7 linked regions of the Homo sapiens genome follow. The protein of the gene in region 7 binds, or shares a complex with, the protein of the main gene of each other region. Each region holds a gene or a part of one and is shown on either strand. Other genes may lie near its edges.

Region 1 (3,500 bases), on a different chromosome or scaffold from region 7:
AGGCTAATAATTAGCAACTCTTACCACTCCTTGGAGGTCTTTATGCTTAATAATTTGCTAAAAGTAAGTTGTCCTTTTTGGTTCACCTTTTTCAAGAACTTTGGGCTTACCGCTTTATTAGGTATGTTGTCCTGTGTTAGACAAAGAGGGACTCAAAGTCTGGGTATCAAAACTCTTCTTCAGCAATCACTAAAACTACGGCCCAATGAATGTAGGAATGTTTAATCCTATGAGGGCTCAGTATGTGCTTATTTTTTCCTGCTTTTTCTCTCATGTGAATAACTGTCATTGTGATTATCCCTTGTAACTTTTACCTTGGCTACCTTAAAATTTTGGGTGTGGTAAACCAGAAAATCCAGGTTAACTATGTATACAAGTAAAATCAGAAAGTGTTACCTGTGAACTGGCAGATCTGCATTAGGCATTAGTAGAAATGCAAAACCTTAGTTAAGTTCTGCCCCATACCTACTGAAGTAGAATCTTCATTTTAAGAAGATTCCCTGGGGATTCATATACACATTAAGGTTTCAGAACTACTGCTCTAATGAAGGACCAACTATGAGCCTCTATTGCAGAATAAAGCTCAAAAAGGATTTCCAACAGCTATTTCAAGCGCTAGGACCTTAGGTTCTGTATAGTTGAGATCTTACCTACAGGTAACCAGGATATTACTACAGCTGAGTAACTGCCGTATGCAACTAAAAAGGAGATGGAAAGTCTAATCTTGCCTGTTATTTGCCATTTCTGGGGGTTACTAACCAGGAAAGTTAATACACATTCCAAAAGAAAAATGAAATCTCCAAGAGAACTCTTGTATCTTTACTTACCACCATTCCAATATTGTTCTGTTGTCCACTAGTCGCCATCTCCACACATTCATCTATCACAAGGTTCATAAAGGGATCAAATCCCCGCAATATTCCTTGGACATGTCTGCCACCATTTAATTTCACTATTAAAAAGAGAAAAAGAAGTTTTAGAAAAACATTCCATTAGCTACCAAGCATTCACTAAAAATCAGGTGGGATAAAACACAAGTATTTGAGATGTCTGAAACCCACTATCCTTACTGTATGACAAGAACTGGGTTAAACATTTTTGTATTTACTTCCACATTTTAATTTATAAGAATCCTAAAAAGTAGTATTATCCTTACTTTATAGGACAGAACTAAACTTCAGAGCTTTTTTAAAATTTTTATAAAGATGGGGGCTCCCTATGTTGCCCAGGCTGGTCTCGAACTCCTGGGCTCAAGGGATCCTCCCGCTTTGGCCTCCCAAAGTGCTGGGGGATTATAGGTGTAAACCACCGTGCCCGAGCTTTTAAGTAACTGGGTTCATGGTTATACAGCTACTGTACGACAGAAGTGAGATTCAAGCTGAAGGCTGCTTACCTCTAACGCTCATGGTTTTTTCCCCTACATATATTTCAAGTACTGTGTGGGTCAGATTTTTAGATAAATTGAACAAATGTTATTCCTACATATTCCCAAGAAACAAGATAACTGTTCCTTGTCTAAGTCCTTTGTAGCTTGTTTAAAGAAAAAAGGTTGATAAATCCTGTTAATTTTGCCAAAGTGAGGAAGGGCTTACATAAGATAAAGTCTGAAGTGCTGTTAAATTAATTATCAGAAATTAGGTAAATAAAATTGTCTAGTTAGGATTAAGTAATCTGCTTAACTAACGGATGTGAATTAGAGGTCCTGTGTGCTTTAAATTTTTTTTTTTTGAGACGGAGTCTAGCTCTATAGCCCAGGCTGGAGTGCAGTACCGCCATCTTGGCTCACTGCAAACTCCGCCTCCTGGGTTCATGCCATTCTCCTGACTCAGCCTCCCGAGTAACTGGGACTACAGGCGCCCGCCACTGCACCCGGCTAATTTTTTTTTGTATTTTTAGTAGAGACGGGGTTTCACCGTGTTAGCCAGGATGGTCTTGATCTCCTGATCTCACGATCCGCCTGCCTCGGCCTCCCAAAGTGCTGGGATTACAGCCGTGAGCCATCGCGCCTGGCTGCTTTAAATTTTTATAAAGTTGCTCCAAACATTGCTAAGACACATGTAAAAAGCAATTAAATAATTAAAAAAAACCCCAAAACAACAACAAACTTACATGATAACTTCTTGTCCATAAATCTGAAAAAGGAAAAGGGTAAAGATTATATAACCAATTAAAAAAATTTAAGCATAAACAAGTAAATAGGTATAGTTAAGATAATTTGCTAAAATTTATACAATGGGAATAATGAAATCTAAAATAGTAAAAATAATGTATTGCTGTAAAGAGTGAGGGAGTAGGGCGAGGTAGCTCACGCCTGTAATCCCAGCACTTTAGGGGGCTGAGGCGGGTGGACTGCTTGAGCTCAGGAGTTGAGACCAGCCTGGGCAACATGGTGAAACCCCATCTCTACCAAAAATACAAAAATTAGCTGGGGGTGGTGGCACATGCCTATGGTTCCAGCTACTTGGGAGGCTGAGGTCGGAGAATCACTGGAGCCTGCCACGTTGAGGCTGCAGTGAGCCATGATTGCGCCACTGCACTCCAGCTTGGGCAATAGAGCGAAACTGTCTCAGGGGAAAAAAAGAGTGGGGGCGTAAAGGGTTACCTAAATTAGACATTCTAGGAAGCAAAGTAATTTGGGAAGAGGAAAGGCAATAAAAATGAAACATATTTAGACTATATTAATTTACATTAAGTAGAGTATACTAATGTGAATTACATTCTTATTGTTCAATACTACGTTGTTTCATTGACCTAAATTTCTTTCTTTTTTTTTTTTTTTTTAAGAGATGGGAGTCTCATTATGTTGCCCAGGCTGGTCCTGAATTCCTGGCCTCGAAAAATATACTCCCCCTCAGCCTCCCAAAGTGCCGCTGGGATTACACAGGCATGAGCTACCACATCTGGTCTCATTGACCTAATTTTCAATGACTGGATTTTATAGTCACAAGAGAAAAACAAAGACTTGCCTATGTTTGGTTATTTCCAAAACTAAGTTGTAAAGACAGCAAACAGTAATCAAATCATATCCAATTCAATAGGTATTTTATATTTGAAATAAGTAGTGTTCTTTTATTTAATATTAAAGCATCAAGCATAAATGTTCAGGGTAGTCCTCAACATTTAAGTATATTTTAGAATAATAAATGCACATTTGAAACTTCAAACGATATGAATTAAAAAAAAATTCCATTTTAGTGGAATACGAGATTAAGCCATGCAGTCAAATCAGTTTTTAATTTCTTCCATATAGGCCAGAAAACATAAAATTTCATTCAATTTTAAAAATTTCATTCAAATTTTAAAATATAAAAAAATGAAAAAAAGATGTTTAGTATATGGGCCACGAAGTGGGGCACTTATTCAATTTTAATGTATAGGATTATCATGGGAAAATGTAAATATAAAACAAGGAGCATGACTGAAGGAGGGAGTAGATACATTTACAAGTAAAAATATATTTATGGGCTGGGCGCGGTGGCTCATGCTTGTAATCCCAGCAC
Region 2 (3,500 bases), on a different chromosome or scaffold from region 7:
TCTTAAATAACCCCACTTACGCAACACACAGGATTAATCCATGCTCTCCATCCCTCCATCAACCTCTACAATTGATGGGTTTAGCCTATTCCAGATGGCTACTGTCTGATATGCCTGTACATCTCTGCTCTGCTCCATCCATGTGAGATATATACTTATAAAGAATCAGTTGTACAGTATTTATTCTTGACGTGTTCATATCAGTCGTATCTGTCATTCTATTTGTGTGACATAAATATTATGGAAACTGATGAAATGTGGGTGCAAAAAGAGTGACTGATTCCATATAACCTAAGTGACTATTTTAGGATGACTAGGAATCATATGAATTGCTATTGAATTAGGTATGGGTAAGACAACTGTTGAAAACTGGGGGAAAATCACTAGGAAAGTAACTCCACACCTCAAGCATCAATTTTTGCTCTACTTTAAAGAAACTGAACATATTCTGATTGTGATTTTTGTGACGACAATCATGTAAAGCACTTATCAGTCGATTTATGCTCAAAAGGCTTTGTTTCAATACCAAATGATTAATGCATCTACAGTTATGCGCTTTAATTTAAAATAAAGTATGTGTATCTTTTAATGACTGCTTACATTAGCTGACATTTTTAATTAACTGACTCAATCCTTTTAGATAAAAGGGCTTCCACTATATAAAAATGCCATCTTATAGTGACAGGAGTGAAAAAAAGAAATACTTTCCCCTAAAATGGCAATAATACTCTGATTTAAATGTGCTTCCCTAACATTTTTACAAAATGAGTTTTTGTAATGATCCTCATATACTAGATACGAAACACCGTCCTAGAACTGGTGTCTTCTCTTGGGTATAGTACAACAGCCCATTTACAAAGGTTAATTTTTCCAAACACAGAGAATATCACTTTTTTTTTTTTGAGACTGAATCTCACTCTATCGCCCAGGCTAGAGTGCAATGGCGCAATCTTGGCTTACTGCAACCTCTGCCTCCCAGGTTCAAGCAATTCTCCTGTCTCAGCCTCACAAGTAGCTGGGATTACAGGCATGCGCTACCACGCCCGGCTAATTTTGTATTTTTAGTAGAGATGGGGTTTCTCCATGTTGGTCAGGCTGGTCTCGAACTCCCAACCTCAGGAGATCCGCCTGCGTTGGCCTCCCAAAGTGCTGGGATCACAGGCGTGAACCACTGCGCCCAGCTGAGAATATCACTTTACTCCCCACAAAAGATAGGTACTCTTCTTCCTTTCAATAAGTTCAATTTGTTTGGACATGTATTTCCAGAGGCTATTTTTTCTTAAAACCATATTTTATTATTCAAAAATACACATTGTAACCTTGGAAATCTTTTTTTTTTTTTTTTGAGACGGAGTCTCGCTCTGTCGCCCAGGCTGGAATGCAGTGGCGCAATCTCGGCTCACTGCAAGCTCTGCCTCGTAGGTTCATGCCATTCTCCTGCCTCAGCCTCCCGAGTAGCTGGGATTACAGGTGACCGCCACCACGCCCGGCTAATTTTTTTGTATTTTTAGTAGAGACAGGGTTTCACCATGTTAGCCAGGATGGTCTCGATCTCCTGACCTTGTGATCCGCCTGCCTCGGCCTCCCAAAGTGCTGGGATTACAGGCGTGAGCCACCGCACCCGGCCTAACCTTGGAAATCTTAAAACTGGCAGAGTTTTTTCTTAAAGTAACAATGCATCTTATAAATAACAGTACCATAGATTCCAAGCAATACTGTAGTACATTTTCCAAAGTAAGAGAGTACCCAAGAGTTACAGCTACTTTTTAATGATATCAGAGTAAGTTTGAGAGCATAAAGGAACTGGAAGTATATAAAAGCATAAAATCTGTACAAATAATAGCTCAGTCAATAAAAACAGAATGGTTCTCAAAGACCTCAATAAGTCAGTCAATAATATATAGTGTGAATCTGCATTAAAGATGCTATTATGTGCTAGGCACTGTATGTAGTTAAGGCTTTATTGTTGTTATTTCTAATCCTTGGGATGACATCAGAAAACAGGTATTTATTCATTCAGCAAATATATACTGAGTGCTTAATATTACATGGTATTTACTGTTCTAAATACCAAAGATGAACATGATAGGCAAAGCCCTTGCCCTCATCAGATAATATTGTAGTGAGAAGAGGTAAACAGTAAGTAAGGAAACAGACAATCTAATAAAACAAGCAAGGTTTTCAAATAGTAGTATTATAGAGAAAATTCTAACAGGATACTAAGGCAGAGATGAGGAAAAGGAAAGAAGAGATTAGTTTAGATGCTGATTAGGGAAACTTCTCTGAAGCTGAGACCCAAACAGCAAGAAGGAGGCAGATACGTAAGCTCTAACGGAAGACTCCTAGGAGACAGCAGCAAGTACAAATCTCTTTGGATGGGAGTGGGCTTGGCAGAACTAATAAAGACAGCATATGATGAATGAGGAGCAGTGTGGTACAATACGAAGCCGGAGAGGTGGGAGGGGTCATATTAAGGAGGACCTTGTAAGAACATGGTAGGGGGCTTAAATTTTATTCTATGTGAAAAAGAAAACCAGTGGCGGATTTTAAGCAAAGGAACTTTGTAAAGGATCACTCTCGTTACTATGAGACAACTGCGGGAAACTAGAGAAGCAGGAAGATAGTTCAATAGTTATTACAGTTCCAAGTAAGAAATAACAGTGGTTTGGAAAAGGGTAATAGCAGTGAGATGTACAGAAGCAGGTGGTTTCAGGTTACATTTTACGTTTTGGAGGTAGATCCAAAGAACTTGCTGATGGATAGGGGAAGTAGGGGAAAGGGAGGACTCAGTGAGGAATTCTAGCTTTTAGGCTTGAACAAGTGGATTAGAGAGTGGTGCTACTATGATGAGAAGACGGAAGGAAAAAGAAGTGGCCTGTTAGACATTAAATGAGGTATGTCAGATAAACTGCTAGATATACGTTTAGAGCTCAGAGAAGTCAGGCCAGAGGTATAAATTTGGGAGTTATATATATATAATAATATTATAATATATATATAATAATATTATTACATATATATATATATAACATATAGCTTGAATTTAAAGCCAGTAGATTGAAGTCACTCTAAAAGGTCACTTGTGATCTCGACAAGAACAGTTTCAGGGCTGTTGTGGGGATAACACATGACTAGAGTGGCTGAAGGAGGGAAAGGAACTTAAGGACACTGAAAAAGTGTCTAGGTAAGACTTTGGAAAACTTCTGATGTGAAGGGGAGCAAAGAAATCAGATGGCAGATGAAAGGGTTCACGAAATTTTTTTTCTGAAAGAGACTCTCACTCTGTCAACCCAGGCTGGAGATCAGTAGTGCGATCCTGGCTCACTGCAGCCTTGACCTCCCTGGGATCAAGTGATCCTCCCACGTCTGCCTCCTGAGTAGCTGGGACTACAGGCGCGTGCTGCCACACCCAGTTAATTTTTCTGTCCTTTGTAGGACAGGGTTTCACATGTTGCCCAGGCTGCTCTCAAACTCCTGGGCTCAGATAATCTGTCTGCCTT
Region 3 (3,500 bases), on a different chromosome or scaffold from region 7:
TTCCTCTGAGCCTGCACACATTCCTGCCCTTGCCCCTCTCCAGGACCTTGGCTTCTGGTGGTGATGGTGCAACTTCTGCTTCCTGCTGCAGGTGCCCTGGGGCTGTGAGTATCTCGTGACTGTAGCAAACTGTGGCTTCTCCTTAGGTGCTGGTGTTTGTCCACTCCCGGAAGGAGACTGGAAAGACAGCCAGGGCCATCCGGGACATGTGCCTAGAAAAGGACACTCTGGGTCTGTTTCTGAGGGAGGGCTCAGCCTCCACAGAAGTCCTGCGAACAGAAGCTGAGCAGTGCAAGGTGAGGAGGGGCCAGCTGGGTTCTCTCATTCCTACCTGGCAGCTGTGTCCATCTCAGGCCCCAGACAGCTCCTCTAGGACTGTACTGTGGTATTGTTGTTTCCCATGGGTTAAGGTTGATTGTCTGGATGTGATTATTACTATTCCACATAATAGTTAAGGGGCAGGGTCTCATGGGAGGAGATTTCCTTAGTCCTTGGATGAGTCCTACAGGAAGGCTCGCCTCATCCCCGGTTCTTTGTTCCACAGAACCTAGAGCTGAAGGATCTTCTGCCTTATGGCTTTGCTATTCATCACGCAGGCATGACCAGGGTTGACCGAACACTCGTGGAGGATCTTTTTGCTGATAAACATATTCAGGTGAGGGGGTGCAAAGCGTTTGGAGGAGCAGGTGGGACATACTTCAGAAGATGGGCAATGTCAAGTTTGTGCCATGTTTGCTCCTGGTACTTTATTGCTTCTGGCCCAGCTAGCCCAGGTCAGAGGGTTGTGGTGGACACAATAAATAGAACCTTATGCTACTCTCCCAACTCTTCCCACCTTGCTTGAGTTTAGGATAGTCTGAGAAGCATAGTGAAGCAAGCACTTTGGTGACTTCAGATAGCTCCAAACAGTGTCTCATGGGGGCACGCGTGCCCTTGTCGTTCCCTCTTTCCGGATAGGCTCTGTTTTACCTTTTCTAGTAACTTTAAGGTTGTTTAATACAAGTCTGCACTTGTGCCTCTGGAACCTTGAAATGTTCATTACTGAATAGATGAGGAACCCAAGGAAACCTTTCCTCTTTATTCTGGTGTCACATTGACAAGTACTGGGACCCCACGCGCCCTACCGGCTAGTCCTGAGAGAAGCTCTGAGGCCAACTGCCTAGAGAAGCCAGGGATATTAACCCCTGGTGATGGCATCTGTTCTCCTCATTACCTTGTTTTGCCTCTGTAGGTTTTAGTTTCCACAGCAACTCTAGCTTGGGGTGTGAATCTCCCTGCACATACAGTCATCATCAAAGGCACCCAGGTGTACAGTCCAGAGAAGGGGCGTTGGACAGAACTGGGAGCACTGGACATTCTGCAGGTACAGAGCCTTTTGAGTTTATTCTCAGCAGGGATCAGTATCCTTGCCTGAAATGCAGGGATGCTGGAAAGCTAGCAGATCAGAGGTCTAGTTCTGTAATGTAGATACCTGCATCAAAATTCAGACATTCTCTTGACATAGCATTCTTGGTTCGCTGTCTCTGATCTAGATGCTGGGACGTGCCGGAAGACCCCAGTATGACACCAAGGGTGAAGGCATACTCATCACATCTCATGGGGAGCTACAGTACTACCTGTCCCTCCTCAATCAACAACTTCCTATTGAAAGCCAGATGGTTTCAAAGCTTCCTGACATGCTCAATGCAGAAATCGTGCTAGGAAATGTCCAGAATGCCAAGGTAGGGGAGGACTGCTTGTTGTGCTTCATGCTTTCCCCGCAGACACCAAGGCACCAGGAGTGGGTCGGTCCCTATTGTGCTGCGGGCCAGCAGCGTCCGAGGCCTTCCATCCCTGCACCCACATCTTGGGTCTGGCAGATAGTTCCCCTTGTTACCAAGATCTTAGAAGACGCTTAGATCTTTTTAATAATGAAATGCTAAAAACATTCAGAATACGATGTAATATGCATCCTTGTAGTTGGGAATTAATTTCTAAGCAATTCATGGGAGCCTGTCATTTGGACATCAAGAGTTTCTCCATGCTAAGAACCATGAGCTGTGTCTTGTAGGATGCGGTGAACTGGCTGGGCTATGCCTACCTCTATATCCGAATGCTGCGATCCCCAACCCTCTATGGCATCTCTCATGATGACCTCAAGGGAGATCCCCTGCTGGACCAGCGCCGACTAGATCTGGTTCATACAGCTGCCCTGATGCTGGACAAGAACAATCTGGTCAAGTACGACAAGAAGACGGGCAACTTCCAGGTGCGTGGGGTGAGGGTTTTGAGGCAAAGGTCTCAGCAAAAGTTGTTGGCCCAGGAAAAAATTTTTCAGATTGCTCTCTTGATGTGAGTACTGCCTATCTAATCACCTGTTGCTTAGAACAGCAGAAAAATGGGTAGCTTTTCCCATAACTTGAGGTGGATAATTCAGCTGTCTTGTCCGTGCAGACATCATTTCACTATGGGTCAGCTTATTCTGCTGTTTTTCTTCATGTGCCTGGGCCTGGCACTTGTACTGCTGTGACTTCATCCAGTTGTCCTATTAGGACAATAATGACATTGGGTCATATACTTTACCAAAAAAAAAGTACAAAAAACCTATAGGACAGTAACTTATGGTCCACAGTTAGAGGTTGGAGCTCATTAATAGTCAGCACTGGATTGAGTCTACCTTCTCTCCAGGTGACAGAACTGGGCCGTATAGCCAGCCACTACTACATCACCAATGATACAGTGCAGACTTACAACCAGCTGCTGAAGCCCACCCTGAGTGAGATTGAGCTTTTCAGGGTCTTCTCATTGTCCTCTGAGTTCAAGAACATCACAGTGAGAGAGGTGAGCCTATGCAGCATGATGGGGCGGGGAGTTGGTGCTCACCAAGTCACTGAATGGTGTCCCTCCTCGGCCACAAGGCTTTCCCTTGACCTTTTCCTCCTTGTGGCAGGAGGAGAAGCTGGAGCTGCAGAAGTTGCTGGAGAGGGTGCCTATCCCTGTAAAGGAGAGCATTGAGGAACCCAGTGCTAAGGTGAGCTCCTCTCCTCTTTGCTTTGATAAGGATGAGGATTAAGTGGTTTTCATAATCTTCTAAAAGATGAACCTTGAATTTGGGTTCATGTGTGGTTTCCTGCTCAGTTCTCCTAGTTTTTGCAGCCTTCTCGCATGTTCTTTTTATATGAAATAACAATTATTTAGTATTTGTAAATCAAGACCTGTAGCAAATCTCACCTGGCCTGGATGCTCAGAGCAGAAATGTAATTCCCTTTCTTGGACTGTTCAGTGATTGGTCTCCTGCTGGCTGATTTTGCTTCTTTACAGATCAACGTTCTTCTGCAAGCCTTCATCTCACAGCTGAAATTGGAGGGCTTTGCACTGATGGCTGACATGGTGTATGTCACACAGGTGAGAGCGGAGTTGTATGGCAGCTGTGAGAAGGGGCCTGAACAGTTCAATCCCTGTGTGCTGTGTGCATCCTGGGGAAAGGAGGCCCGACCCTAGTGAGATGGGAGGAGTGCTTA
Region 4 (3,500 bases), on a different chromosome or scaffold from region 7:
TCTACCAAGCGCAAGTAATCAAACCATGCATCATAATTGTGTGGATTCGCCTAGAAAGACAACCAGTTTAATAAATAAAAAACAAAACCAAGAGCTGCACTTGCCAGGTTAAGCAAGCTGAAAAAAGGCATCAGGCTGACTTTCTATATTTTAGCACCTTTTCTTCTAAATGTTACATGTTCTTTCATTTTAAAAACACCATCCCTGAGACTGCATAAATAGAAAAGAAACAGGAATACAGAGGATAGATTACTGGCCAGGTGTCCCACAGCAAGGACTCCTTCATCTATAGCCATCACTCTCACGACAGTCAATAATTAGATGCCTATTCTTGCCAATGCATTTGCTTAAATATGTGACTATGTATCATTATGTCTGTAACAACAGAATCGTATCATGCTCACAATTGTTAAACTTGCCTTTCCAATTAATAGCAATTCATCTTTAACATATCTTGCTAACCTACCACCACATTTAATAACAGACTTAGTCCTTTGCTTGGAGGTATCTTAATTAACTTGACTAAGGAAGAGTATTTTTAAATACACAACAGAATACTGAAGGAAAATGACACTCTCTTTGAATTGAAATCAAAATAGTACATTACAGAAAAAGAGATGCCGATGGAACCCTGTCTAGCATACATCTTTTGTTCAGGCAGTTAAGCTCAAAGGTGATGTGCAAAACAGGTTTTTGGACCAATCTCTGACTCTTCCACCTTCTTCCAACAATGAGCTCGAATGGATTCCACATTTCTTTTGCTCCAGTTCTACATACAGTCAACAATCAACAAAACGACTTACAACATGTAAGTGGCAGAGCAAATCCAAGTGTTGTTTGCTTGCCTTTTCTATCAGCCTTGTTTATTCCTACTTGTCTGAAATAGCTGCCAATTGGATCACGGGCACATCATCACGAGAGTAATCACTAGTAGTGCTACTTGCTATTATTCATTTTAGTGTTGCTAGTATTGATGAGCACATCTTGGGTTATCTGCAGAGTTGACCATCCACACCAGTGCTCACCTTCACTTCTTCTTCGTACTGGAATCTCCGTTTGCTCACAATGATATCTTCAATACCCCGCCTATCACCAAACTTCTTCTCAAAGATGGTATAATTTTTAAAGAGTTCTTGGGCATCTTGTTTTGAAATTCTGTCCAGGGCATACTTGTAAATCACTCGTACCCTTTCAAACTAAATGCAGACAGGATGATTACCTTCTATAACACAATATTCTCATGCCAGTCACAACTAGGAGAGTAAATATAACAAAATATTACTTATAAGTTAGATTTTGAGGCCTCATAATATCCAGAGTAAGATGCTTTTCTCCCTCTTGTTGAAGGTTATCTCTGTCAGGATGGACCGGTACTCTGCTTTGAGCTCCATATTTAATACTGTCTACCTAACACTGCCAACTGGATGTCTACTGCACATCTCAAACAGGTCCAAAACTGAGCTTCTGTTTCCTCCCCACTCAAACTGGGACTCTCCCCATCTTCCCAATTTTAGTAGGCAAGGCCTAACCTACAGTCACTTGCTCAAGCCAAAACCTTCAGGTGATCCTCAATTCCTCTTTTTTCCTCATACTCCATATTCACTCTTGCAACATGCCCTACCATTTCAATCTCTTCCACACAGCCATTTGCTTCTCCCCAGCCCCCAGCCATCAAACTCCACTGTTCACCTGGCCCACTTCAAAAGTCTCCCCACTGGTCTCCCCTGGTTCCACTTTTGCCATCTACCCTCATACATTCTCCATGAATTAGCCAGAGGCTCTCCTTAAAATATAAATCATATCCAATCACTGTCCCGCTTAAAACCTTTCAATGCTTCCCACTGGCCCGAACAGAATCTGAACTCCCTAGCATGGTCCGTGCAAGACCTTATATAGGTTGAGTATCTCTTGTCTGAAGCATTTGGTATCAGAAGTGTTTTGGATTTGGGATGTTTCCCCAGTTTGGGAATATTTGCATTATACTTACTGGTTCAGCATCCCTAATCCAAAAACCCGAAGTCTGAAATGTTCCAATGAACATTTCCTTCGAGTGTCATGTCAGCACTCAACAAGTTTCACATTTTGAGTTTTGGATTTTCAGACTGGGAATGCTCAAACCTGTATTTGGATGGATCTCAATTCTGTATTATTTGAACTCCCTTTTTTTTTAAGAAATGGGGTCCTGCTCTGTCACCCAGGCTAGAGTGCAATGGCACGAACATAGCTCATTGTAGTCTCAAACTCCTAGGCTCAAGTGATACTCCTGCCTCAGCTTCCCAAGTAGCTGGGACTGTAGGTGTGCACCACTATGCCCACTCAATTTTTTTTTTTAGAGACAGGGTCTCACTATGTTGCCCAGGCTGGTCTCAAACTCCTGGCCTCAAGTGATCCTTCTGCCTCATCTTCTCAATATTTGAGCTATTTTCATAGGTACAAGGGAAAAAAAGAACTCTCTTATTTGTAGGGCAATCTCTGTTTCCATTCTAAATGTTTTCTGTTCTAGGGCTTTAAGCTTTTTGTTTCCCATATTTATTATCGGTTAAGTCCTTTACTTAGGATGCCAAAAGACTAGTTCTCAGTTTACGGGCATTCAGACTAAAAGGCTTAATTTTCAAACAAAGCACAATAAAATTAAGACAGTTATAATACAATCTATAATCAGCTCCCATCTGTAGCTTAGTCACATATATATGCTGTTCTCTGTGAGAAGCTGTGTTTTTGTATTTTGAAAACATCTTTCCAGGGATATGTCAGTAAGAAAAAATGGAAATGAACTCACCATGCACAAAATGTAATCTTTGCTAAGCTGTTTTACAGTATAATGAAGTTAGGTATACTTACCTCTTTCTGATTTTCTTCAAACTTGGCAAAGGCAACATAAAGGTGCTCATCCATATGTTCATCTCCAAAGAATTCCACAGCTCTCTCATACACTTTCCGTGCATGGGCAAAATAAGCATGTTTTTCTTCAAAGCGGGCATACTTGATCCAGTTCTTAACATCAGGGTGCACGAGGACAAGTGCAAGGGAATTAAGGAAATCCCAGGCAAAACAGCATGGCTTAAAAAAATAGTAAGTAAGTAAACACCAAAACCATACCAAAGCCTGGAAACTCCAAAAATTCAAACTACAACTCTAGGGGAACAAAACACATACAAAAGTGTAGAATTAAACAGTGGCTTCTGTGAGAGCAGGGCCACGCCTGTTCATCTCTATTTTCCTCCAGTGCTTAGTTAAGATTTTAGTGGTGGGTATAAACTCGAGTTGGAAGCAAAGAAAAATCTCAACCCAGGTTACCAACCATGTGATCTTGGATAAGTCACTGAACTTAGACGTCTAAGTCTCAGCTGTTTCATTTGTAAACAGGGAAAAATAATGCCAGCCTCACTGGATTACTGCCAGCTTTAAATGAGAAAATGTATGTAAAGCCCTTAGCACAGTTTCTAGCCAAAAGAACATGGCACCGTAAGCGGTCAATAATGGTCTGGTCATTAAATAGC
Region 5 (3,150 bases), on a different chromosome or scaffold from region 7:
CTGCATCATTTTACATTCCCACCAATAGGCACAAGGGTTCCAATGTCTCTGCATCCTCCTCAACACTTGTTCTGTTTCTCTGATAGTAGCCTAATGGCTATGAAGTGCTGCTTCACTGTAGTTTTGATTTGCATTTCCCCAATGATGAGATGTTGAGCATCATTTCCTGTGCTTACTGGCTTTTTAGAGAAATGTCTATTCAAGTCCTTTGCCCATCCTTGAATTGGATTATCTTTTGTTATGCCTGGGTAGCTTTTACCTTTTATTTTTAATATTTTTTAAAAATTTAAACTTTTGCCTATGACACAGCCCTCAGGAGGCCCTGAGAGCATATGCCCCTGCCTGGGTTACTTTTATCTCATTTTATAAATAAAATTCCTTTGTCACCTGGCTTCTTAAAATTTAATTTTTTTTTTTTTTTTTTGTAGAGACAGGGTCTGTCAACCAGGCTGGTATGAGTGGCATGATCGTATCTCACTACAGCCTCGAACTCCTGGGCTTAAGTGATCCTCCCACCTCAGCCTCCTGAGTAGCTGGGACTACAAGTGCATGCCACCACTACTGGCTAATTTAAAAAAATTAATTTTTCTAGAGACAGGGTCTCAATATGTAGCCCAGGCTGAACTTGAGCTCCTGGCCTCAAGTGATCCTCCTGCCTCAGCCTCCTAAGTAGCTACAGGGTACATGCCACCACACCTGGTTACTTTATTTGTATTTTTTGAGATGAAGTCTCCCTCTGTTGCCCAGGCTGGAGTGCACTGGTGCGATTTTGACTCACTGCAACCTCTGCTGCCCAGGTTCAAACGATTCTCTGGCCTCAGCCCCCCAAGTAGCTGGAATTACAGGCATGTGCCACCATACCCAGCTAATTTTTAGTAGAGACGGGGTTTCACCATGTTGGCCAGGCTGGTCTCAAACTCCTTACTTCAAGTGATCTGCCCACCTCGGCCTCCCAAAGTGCTGGGATTACAAGCGTGATCCACTGTGCCCGGGCTTTTTTTTTTTTTTTTTTTTTGTAGAGACAGGGTCTCGCTTTTTTGCCCGGGCTGGTGGTGAACTCCTGGGCCAAGTGATCCTCCTGCTTCAGCCTCCCAAAGTGCTGGGATTATAGGCATGAACCACTGTTCCTAGCCAGCAGGGTCATTTTTCATTCCGTCTTGTACTTGCCTCAGTACTTACCACTGGCTCTGAGAACTGCAGAGGGGCTGCTCTGCTTCTACTTCCGGTTCATTCTTATCAGGACCATTTGCTGTGGATTTACAGAGTTGACTCTTTTGGTGTTGTCGGATCATTTCTGCCAAGGTCTCTTGGACTTCAGCAACAGTTCTCTGTGAGTTTTGGAGACTGGCATGCTTTTCTGAAAAGAGCTCCTTAAAAGTACTCAGCATTCGCTCACCTTCTTCTGTGAGTCTCAAGTCTAGTTCTGAAGGCCTGTTTGGCTCTGGCTGAGAAGTTTCAGGGTCCGTTTCTTCAGTGCTGGCAGTGTCTAACTGCTGGCTTGGCTCAACAGAGAGTGTTCTGTGACCAGCCCTTACCCAGACACTGGAATTTGGGCAAGGTCTGGAGAGAGACCACCAGAATTCATACAGACGCCCATAAAGAAAAAAGGCCTCCAAACTTTTGAAAGCTGGTGTGGCAGGGGATTGATGGTCCCCCAACTTGTCTCTTAGGTGGTCACAGCCTAGGAAAAGAGGAAAAAGATACTGGGTCATGCATTTCTCTAGTTGCCAGAAATGTGGCTTCCTGCCCTTATGTTCTATTTCTTATCAACCAAGAAGCAGACCCCAGGAAAAAGGACAACAGTGTGATCCACCGGGCCACATGCCTTTCCACCAAGAGCCAACTGGAGGCTAAACATTTCCTGGCTTGCGACAGTGTTCTCATTACTACATCCTAGGAGTCATTCAAAGCATGATAGAGTATTCCATTTGTACTACTGAAGGCTCTGGGGCCACGACAACAGATCACACTGTCTCTCTGAAAAATCACAATGATTTAGTTCAGTGACTGACTATGCAGCCCAAGGAATGTCTATCTTTTTTGCTGTTCTTTTCTGTTCTTACTAACATGTAACTACATTCCTATTTCTCTCTCCCTTAAACTTTGTGGAAAGTGGACAGGAGGCTGTAAGAGGGTAGGGCCAGGTAAAGGAAACAGTATAGTTGTTCTTAAAAGCTTCGGTAAGAGAATCCAAACTTTCTACTAAAATGACACAGCTGGCCAATCTCCATCTTTTAAGAATCTAGGTACTCCCAGTGCCACACCACTAATGGTGGTGATGTTGTCCATTAAAGGGTGTGCCTCAGGCAGCAGGAAGTCACTTACCGTCAGGGAGAAAGGCTGAGTACACTTCCTGCATGATGGTGAAGCTCCCTGAGTCATAGCTCCGGACCACCGCCCGAAGGAGCGCCTGCACAGCCTCGTCCCAGGAGGCCATCTGTTGGCTCAGCACTGCCAGGGTCAAGTCATGGCAAATGTGAAGCAGGAGCTGGAGAGAGAAGCCAGAGTCTGAGTTAAACATCCTCCCACGGTAGGCGCAGAGGATGCCACCAAACTGTTCCTGTGAACCGCATTTGGAAACAAGTACACACAATTCACACTTTGAAAGTTCCTCTTGTCTCCGCCACCCATTTTTGCTTCCCACATCGGAAACTCTCATGTCTAGTTGCACAGCAGCACACACACGTCCCGGTGTTAAAGTCTGTTCACACTGAGAAAACACCTTTACATTTGCATTTAATTAAAACAAAAAGTGGGCCAGGCGCGGTGGCTCATGCCTGTAATCCCAGCACTTTGGGAGGCCAAGGTGGGCAGATCACAAGGTCAGGAGTTCAAGACCAGCCTGGCCAACATGGTGAAACCCCGCCTCTACTAAAAACACAAAAATTAGCCAGGCATGATGGCGCGTGCCTGTAGTCCCAGCTACTCGGGAGGCTGAGACAGAAGAATTGCTTGAACCCGGAAGGTGGAGGTTGTGGTGAGCTGAGATTGCGCCACTGCACTCCAGTCTGAGCATGAGAGTGAGACTCCCTCTCAAAACAAACAAACAAACAACAAAAACAAAAAGTGAGTTTCTGGAACTAAAAGCTGTAATTAAAAACAAAATAAAGGCTGGGTGCAGTTGCTCACACCTATAACCCCATCACTTTG
Region 6 (3,075 bases), on a different chromosome or scaffold from region 7:
AAATTACAAAAATTAGCCGGGCATGATGGCAGGTGCCTGTAAGCCCAGCTACTTGGGAGGCTGAGGGGGGAGAATTGCTTGAACCCAGGAGGTGAAGGTTGTAGTGAGCCGAGATGGTGCCATTGCACTCCAGCCTGGGCAACAGAGCGAGACTCTGTCTCAAAACAAAACAACAAAAAAAGTTTTCAAATAAATTCCAAGAAGAATTTCTATGTAAGAAATGAAATAAAACAGATACTAAATAAAAATATGCCACAACTGAAAATGAACGCAGGACACAGGCAATTAAACAAAAATGCAGGCTGAATGCAGTGGCTTTACACCTGTAATCCCTGCACTTTCGGAGGCTTAGGTGGGAGGATCGCTTGAGCCCAGGAGTTTTGAGACCAGCCTGGGCAACATAGTGAGACCCTGTCTCTACGAACAATTTTTTTTAATTAGCCAGGTGTGGTGGTGCTTGGTTGTGGTCCTAGCTACTCAGGAGGCTGAGGTGGGAGGATTGCTGGAGCCCAGGAAGTTAAAGCTCTAGTGAGCTGTGATTGCGCCACTGCACCCTAACTATAGCAACAGAGTGAGACTCAAAAAAAAACCAACCAAACAAAAACCAAATGTAATAAATACGATCTAACCTCACTGACCTCACTGATAAATAATAAAGAAGCCAAGGATTAACTATACCTGCTAACCAAGCAGATTAATAAATTCAAAGCAGGAACCCTCTCATCATCTTTGCTATCCTAAAAAAAAAAAAAGAAAAATTTAAATATTGTCTGTTCCTATTACTTTTGAAATAAATTTTCTATTAAGATGTAAAACACGAAACATGAAAACTTTATTATATGACAGTAATCATCATGTGGAAATAGGAGCCCTCAAAGAAAAAGCAGAGAACTGTAGAGTTAATGATTCCTTGAGAAACATCTAAGACTATCTTTTAAATAAAGATTCTGAATAGGGAAAAAAAAATAAAGAGGGATCTAAGGGGGATAACTTGGGGGAAATTTTTCCCTGGTTCCTACTAAAGGAACAATAAGAATCCTGTGTCTTAACTGTACAGTGATGAATATATATATATATATTCATATATATTATATATGTGTCTTAACTGTAGTGAATATGTATTCATATATAATAAATATATATTAATATACATATATGAATAAATATATTTATCACTGTAGTCAAGACACAGGATTCTTATTGTTCCTCTATATAATGCATACAATATATGTGAGGATATATATAGAATATATATGAATATATATAATATATATTAATCACTGTACAGTCAAGACACAGGATTCTTACTGTTCTTATATATATTCATTACTGAATTATATAAAGATATATATATAAAGATATATATATATACACACACACACACACACATATATATACACACACACACACACACACACACACCAGGTGCAGTAGCTCATGCCTGTAATCCCAGCACTTTGGGAGGCTGAGGCAGGTGGATCACTTGAAGTCAGCAGTTTGAGACCAGTCTGGCCAACATGGTGAAACCCTGTCTCTACTAAAAATACAAAAATTAGCCAGGCATGGTGGCGGGCACCTGTAATCTCAGCTACTCTGGAGGCTAAGGCAGGAGAATTGCTTGAACCTGGGAAGCGGAGGTTGCAGTGAGCCGAGACCGCACCATTGCACTCCAGCCTCGGTGACAGAGCGAGACTCCATCTCACAATAAAAGAAAAAAAAAAAAAAAAAAAAAAGGCTGAAGCTACAGCAGCCATCTTGGATCATAAGATGAGCATGAGGATGAAAGCCACATATGACAAAACTCAAAGGTGTGGGTGGGTTACTGCCATCTTAGTAAAAATCTAATTTTTTTACCTACTTCTTTTTTGAGACAGAGTCTTGCTCTGTTGCCCAGGCAGGAGTGCAGTGGTGCAATCTCAGCTCACTGCAACCTCCGCCTCCTGGGTTCGAACGATTCTCCTGCCTCAGCCTCCTGAGTAGCTGGGATGACAAGCACCCACCACCACACCCAGCTAAATTTTGTATTTTTAGTAGAGACGGGGTTTCACCATGTGGGCCAGGTTGGTCTCAAACTCCTGACCTCAGGTGAGCCACCCGCCTCAGCCTCCCAAAGTGCTGGGATTATAGGTGTGAGCCACCACGCCCGGCTCAGACTTCTTTATCTCAGAAAACATTTCCATATTATTTAAGCTACTATTATTTTGGGCTTTACAAATCTAATTGCCACCAATAAAATATTCCATGTGTTTTCCTATTTCACTGAACTCCTTCTTTACCACCATATAAATTGGTGGGTGCTTTTAATTTTAAACAGTAAGTTGCAACTTACCACTAAGAGCCTCACTTCAGAGCACCTTCTTGCAAGCTGCCGAATCAGTGAATGAGCCTCAGGTAACAAAGGCTTTTCAAGACAAGCCAATAAAGCATAAAGCCATCTTCCCTAAAAAAAAATTCAAAAAATTAATATTTAGACAAATACTGAACCAGAAGTTTATTTTTTAAATGTCCAATGTTATGCCTGATTATCTGCTATGAATAAATTCATAGAACATTTAACTATATTATGTTTGGGTATAGACAAGAAAGCCTCATTTGGAGAGCCAGGTGTTATCTCTTGTATCCTATAATTACAGACACAGGACATTGGATACCTCAAAATATTCCCTGATCTCCAAAGAGTTTGTTTCAGATATTCTTATGATAGGAAGTTCTCATTTGTAAGCAGAACACTACATTAAGATGAATATAAATACTGGAAAAAATTAAGATACATTTTTTTCTTTGTTCTGTATGGACAGATATAGAAATCATTTTATAATTGTATAATTTTGTCCTCTGGGGACATACAAAGAAACTATACTACAGATGAAATAATCTTTTGACACTTTTATAAATACTTTGACAGGCTCAATGTATCCCCACTCCCTTTTAAAATGGGGTTTTCAGCTACAAAATGAATACATATTTGATGCAGAAAAACTGTGAAGAATACCACAAGCACAAGAAAAAACCTGCAGTCCCAACATTCCAGATCAAACTTTGATTCACTTTAAAAATGTTCTTGTTTTTCCTATT
Region 7 (3,500 bases):
TATTTTTTAGTAGAGACGGGGTTTCACCATGTTAGCCAGGATGATCTCGATCTCCTGACCTCGTGATCCGCCCGCCTTGGCCTCCCAAACTGCTGGAATTATAGGCGTGAGCCACCACGCCTGGCCTATTTCTTTTTCATGGTTTATAATGAGTCTAAGATCTTGTATGTCTGGATTTCAGGTTTGAGAATTAGAAACGTCCAAATGACAGTTTATGTTAGTATTGTTGTGTTCCTTCATAAAGGTTGAGGATATAATTCAGGAAAGCTGAAATTGTTATGCAGATTATTGATAGGAATTGATGCAGATAGCATCTAGCAAATTTTCAACATCGAGTTGTTTCACCCTTTCACCTTAATAAATGTGATTTTAAAGTGTTACAGGTAAAAATGGTTTTATTCCTATTTATAGATTTTTGATGAAATTGAGTCATGAAACTGTAACCATTGAATTGAAGAACGGAACACAGGTCCATGGAACAATCACAGGTACGGAGGTTGGACTGCTTTTATAACATTTTTTTTCTTCTCTTTTACCTAGCCAGAGTTTATTTTTTTATTGCTTAATGAACATTATTGTAGTACAAATCCTTATTTTTTTTGTCTGAATTATGTAATTTTTTTTTTTTTTTTTTAAACAGTTTTGCTCTGTCACCTGGGCCGGAGTGCAGTGGCACGATCTCAGCTCACTGCAACATCCGCCGCCTGGGGTCAAGCAATTCTCCTGTCTCAGCCTCCCAAGTAGCTGGGACTACAGGTGCCTGCCACCATGCCCGGGTAAATTTTTTTTTTAGACGGATTCTCACTCTGTTACCCAGGCTGGAGTGCAGTGGCACAATCTCAGGTCACTACAACCTCTGCCTCCCGGGTCCGGGTTGAAGCAATTCTCCTGCCTCAGCCTCCCAAGTAGCTGGGGTTATGGGTGCGTGCCACCACACCCAGCTAATTTTTTATATTTTTGGTAGAGACGGGGTTTCATCATGTTGGCCAGGTTGGTCTCGAACTCCTGACCTCATGATCCATCTTAACAAAAGCAGTAACAATTCTTATATACAGAGAGAAGCAGAAACAAAGGTGAGGATAGTTTGGTGGAATGGGGATTATGAGGAAGTTACAAAGACAGTGGGAGAAACATGAAAGAAATACCTGTCACATCAGTAGTGAGCCTAAAGCCCAGTCAGGGTTCTTCCATGGCTTGCTGCATTCACTTCTGTAAGCAAAACATTAGTGTGCTAGGAAAAATCTCTAGGAAGGAAACACTGCTGACATTCCCCCATTTACCAGTTGCACATGTGCTAAATTGTGTCATAGAAAACTTGCACTTTGTAGAAGAACAGTAATCTTTTGTAGTCCAGTATTTACTGTGGCTCAGTAGATTAATTAGTTGCCTTAACTTGTATCATACTAATAACTGCACAATTATTTTCCTCTTTAGGTGTGGATGTCAGCATGAATACACATCTTAAAGCTGTGAAAATGACCCTGAAGAACAGAGAACCTGTACAGCTGGAAACGCTGAGTATTCGAGGAAATAACATTCGGTATTTTATTCTACCAGACAGTTTACCTCTGGATACACTACTTGTGGATGTTGAACCTAAGGTGAAATCTAAGAAAAGGGAAGCTGGTAAGTTTGAAGGATTATAAACATTTTTGTGAATGCTAATCCTAATCCACACTATTCATAATATAGATATTATTTGCAAACAACACAAGTGTCTTTGTTGTTTAATATTTCCTATAGTATGTATAGTAATTCTTGGTGTTGCTATTAAAAACATTGAGCAACCGGACGCAGTGGCTCACGCCTATAATCCCAGCACTTTGGGAGGCCAAGGCGGGTGGATCACGAGGTCAGGAGTTCAAGACCAGCCTGGCCAACATGGTGAAGCCTCATCTCTACTAAAAATATAAAACTTAGCTGGGCATGGTGGCGGGTGCCTGTAATCCCAGCTACTCGGGAGGCTGAGGCAGGAGAATCGCTTGAACCCAGTAGGCGGAGGTTGCAGTGAGCCGAGATCTCACCACTGCACTCCAGCCTGGGTGACAGAGCCACTGTCTCAAAAAAAAAAAAAACCAAACAACAAATATCGATGTGGTCGGGCAGGGTGGCTCACACCTGTAATCCCAGCACTTTGGGAGGCCAAGGTGGGCAGATCACCTGAGGCCAGGAGTTCCAGACCAGCCTGGTCAACATGGCGAAACCCCCTCTCTACTAAAAATGCAAAAAAAATCAGGCGTGGTGGTGCGTGCCTTTAGTCCCAGTTACTCGGGAGGTTGAGGCAGACGAATCACTTGAACCTGGGAGGTGGAGGTTGCTGTGAGCCAAGATCACGCCACTGCACTCCAGCCTGGGCTACAGAGTGAGACTTTGTCTCAAAAAAAAAAAATATATATATATATATATGATTGTAATCCATAGCTTGAAAAACAATGATTTAATCTCTCTCTCGGTCCTTTATCTCATGCTGCTTTCCACTTTAAAAAAACCCCCTGTGGGTACCAAAATCTACAGATTCTTAAGTCCCTTTTCATAAAATGGTAGTAGTGTTTCAGTGCACATCCTTTTGTACCCTTTAAATCATCTCTAGATTACTTGTAATACCTAGTATAATGTAAATGCTCTGTAGATAGTTATACTGTATTGTTTAGGCGTTAATGACAAGAAAAAGTCTGTATGTGTTTAGTACAGATACAACCATCATAGGCCTAAACTACATTTTTGATCCTCAGTTGGTTAAATCCATGGATGTGCAACCCATGGATATTGAAGGCTGGCTGTATTTTCAAATCTGAGGATGTTTTGCTTTAATGTCGTTAGGGTTATTCTACATTTTTTTTTTTACTACCTACCTACCTGTCGGGGAATTGATGATTGAAAGCCCCCCGCCTCATATCATCTTACTCCACGCTTCTGAATCTTAGATTTTTCAGAAGTTATTCTTCCTTTACTAAATGTTACAGTTCCCAGTCTACTTTCTATTTAAAATTTTGTTGAAAAAAATTTTTTTTTTTTTTTTTGAGATGGAGTTTCGCTCTTGTTAGCCAAGCTGGAGTGCAGTGGCAGGATCTCAGCTCACTGCAACCTCTGCCTCCTGGGTTCAAGCGATTCTTCTGTTTCAGCCTCCCAAGTAGCTGGGATTATAGGTGTGTGCCACCACACCCAGCTAATTTTGTATTTTTAGTAGAGGTGGGGTTTCATCCTGTTGGTCAGGCTGGTCTCATACCCCTGACCTCAAGTGATCCACCCGCCTCGGCCTTCCAAAGTGCTGGGATTACAGGCAGGAACCACCGCGCCCAGCCGAAATCTTTTTTTGAGATGGACTCTCACTCTGTCGCCCAGGCTGGAGTGCAGTGGCGCGATCTCGGCTCACTGCAAGCTCCGCTTCCCGGGTTCACACCATTGTCCTGCCTCTGCCTCTCCAGTAGCTGGGACCACAGGCGCCTGCAACCACGCCCGGCTAATTTTTTGTATTTTTAGTAGAGACGGGGTTTCACCGT

What was found.
Region 1: SNRPD1 (region 7) and SNRPG share a complex: the UniProt entries of both Homo sapiens proteins name them as parts of the SMN-Sm complex.
Region 2: SNRPD1 (region 7) and CRIPT share a complex: the UniProt entries of both Homo sapiens proteins name them as parts of the minor spliceosome.
Region 3: SNRPD1 (region 7) and SNRNP200 share a complex: the UniProt entries of both Homo sapiens proteins name them as parts of the U4/U6-U5 tri-snRNP complex.
Region 4: SNRPD1 (region 7) and CRNKL1 share a complex: the UniProt entries of both Homo sapiens proteins name them as parts of the minor spliceosome.
Region 5: SNRPD1 (region 7) and GEMIN5 share a complex: the UniProt entries of both Homo sapiens proteins name them as parts of the SMN-Sm complex.
Region 6: SNRPD1 (region 7) and GEMIN2 share a complex: the UniProt entries of both Homo sapiens proteins name them as parts of the SMN-Sm complex.

What each region holds. Positions count from the first base shown.
Region 1 is NC_000002.12:70,287,241-70,290,740, forward strand, and holds part of SNRPG (small nuclear ribonucleoprotein G), read right to left. Parts: intron 2,133-3,500; coding exon 2,110-2,132; intron 953-2,109; coding exon 828-952; intron 132-827; coding exon of another isoform or gene 21-131; exon of another isoform or gene 1-20. UniProt on the Homo sapiens protein: Plays a role in pre-mRNA splicing as a core component of the spliceosomal U1, U2, U4 and U5 small nuclear ribonucleoproteins (snRNPs), the building blocks of the spliceosome.
Region 2 is NC_000002.12:46,620,215-46,623,714, reverse strand, and holds part of CRIPT (cysteine-rich PDZ-binding protein), read right to left. Parts: intron 1-3,500. UniProt on the Homo sapiens protein: As a component of the minor spliceosome, involved in the splicing of U12-type introns in pre-mRNAs. Involved in the cytoskeletal anchoring of DLG4 in excitatory synapses.
Region 3 is NC_000002.12:96,288,547-96,292,046, reverse strand, and holds part of SNRNP200 (U5 small nuclear ribonucleoprotein 200 kDa helicase), read left to right. Parts: intron 1-146; coding exon 147-296; intron 297-544; coding exon 545-655; intron 656-1,231; coding exon 1,232-1,363; intron 1,364-1,532; coding exon 1,533-1,721; intron 1,722-2,050; coding exon 2,051-2,248; intron 2,249-2,667; coding exon 2,668-2,820; intron 2,821-2,929; coding exon 2,930-3,010; intron 3,011-3,300; coding exon 3,301-3,384; intron 3,385-3,500. UniProt on the Homo sapiens protein: Catalyzes the ATP-dependent unwinding of U4/U6 RNA duplices, an essential step in the assembly of a catalytically active spliceosome. Plays a role in pre-mRNA splicing as a core component of precatalytic, catalytic and postcatalytic spliceosomal complexes.
Region 4 is NC_000020.11:20,042,467-20,045,966, forward strand, and holds part of CRNKL1 (crooked neck-like protein 1), read right to left. Parts: intron 3,061-3,500; exon of another isoform or gene 3,021-3,060; coding exon 2,842-3,020; intron 1,197-2,841; coding exon 1,026-1,196; intron 51-1,025; coding exon 1-50. UniProt on the Homo sapiens protein: Involved in pre-mRNA splicing process. As a component of the minor spliceosome, involved in the splicing of U12-type introns in pre-mRNAs.
Region 5 is NC_000005.10:154,890,062-154,893,211, forward strand, and holds part of GEMIN5 (gem-associated protein 5), read right to left. Parts: intron 2,489-3,150; coding exon 2,326-2,488; intron 1,682-2,325; coding exon 1,180-1,681; intron 1-1,179. UniProt on the Homo sapiens protein: The SMN complex catalyzes the assembly of small nuclear ribonucleoproteins (snRNPs), the building blocks of the spliceosome, and thereby plays an important role in the splicing of cellular pre-mRNAs.
Region 6 is NC_000014.9:39,131,323-39,134,397, reverse strand, and holds part of GEMIN2 (gem-associated protein 2), read right to left. Parts: intron 2,441-3,075; coding exon 2,330-2,440; intron 738-2,329; coding exon 679-737; intron 1-678. UniProt on the Homo sapiens protein: The SMN complex catalyzes the assembly of small nuclear ribonucleoproteins (snRNPs), the building blocks of the spliceosome, and thereby plays an important role in the splicing of cellular pre-mRNAs.
Region 7 is NC_000018.10:21,622,314-21,625,813, forward strand, and holds part of SNRPD1 (small nuclear ribonucleoprotein Sm D1), read left to right. Parts: intron 1-411; coding exon 412-488; intron 489-1,434; coding exon 1,435-1,626; intron 1,627-3,500. UniProt on the Homo sapiens protein: Plays a role in pre-mRNA splicing as a core component of the spliceosomal U1, U2, U4 and U5 small nuclear ribonucleoproteins (snRNPs), the building blocks of the spliceosome.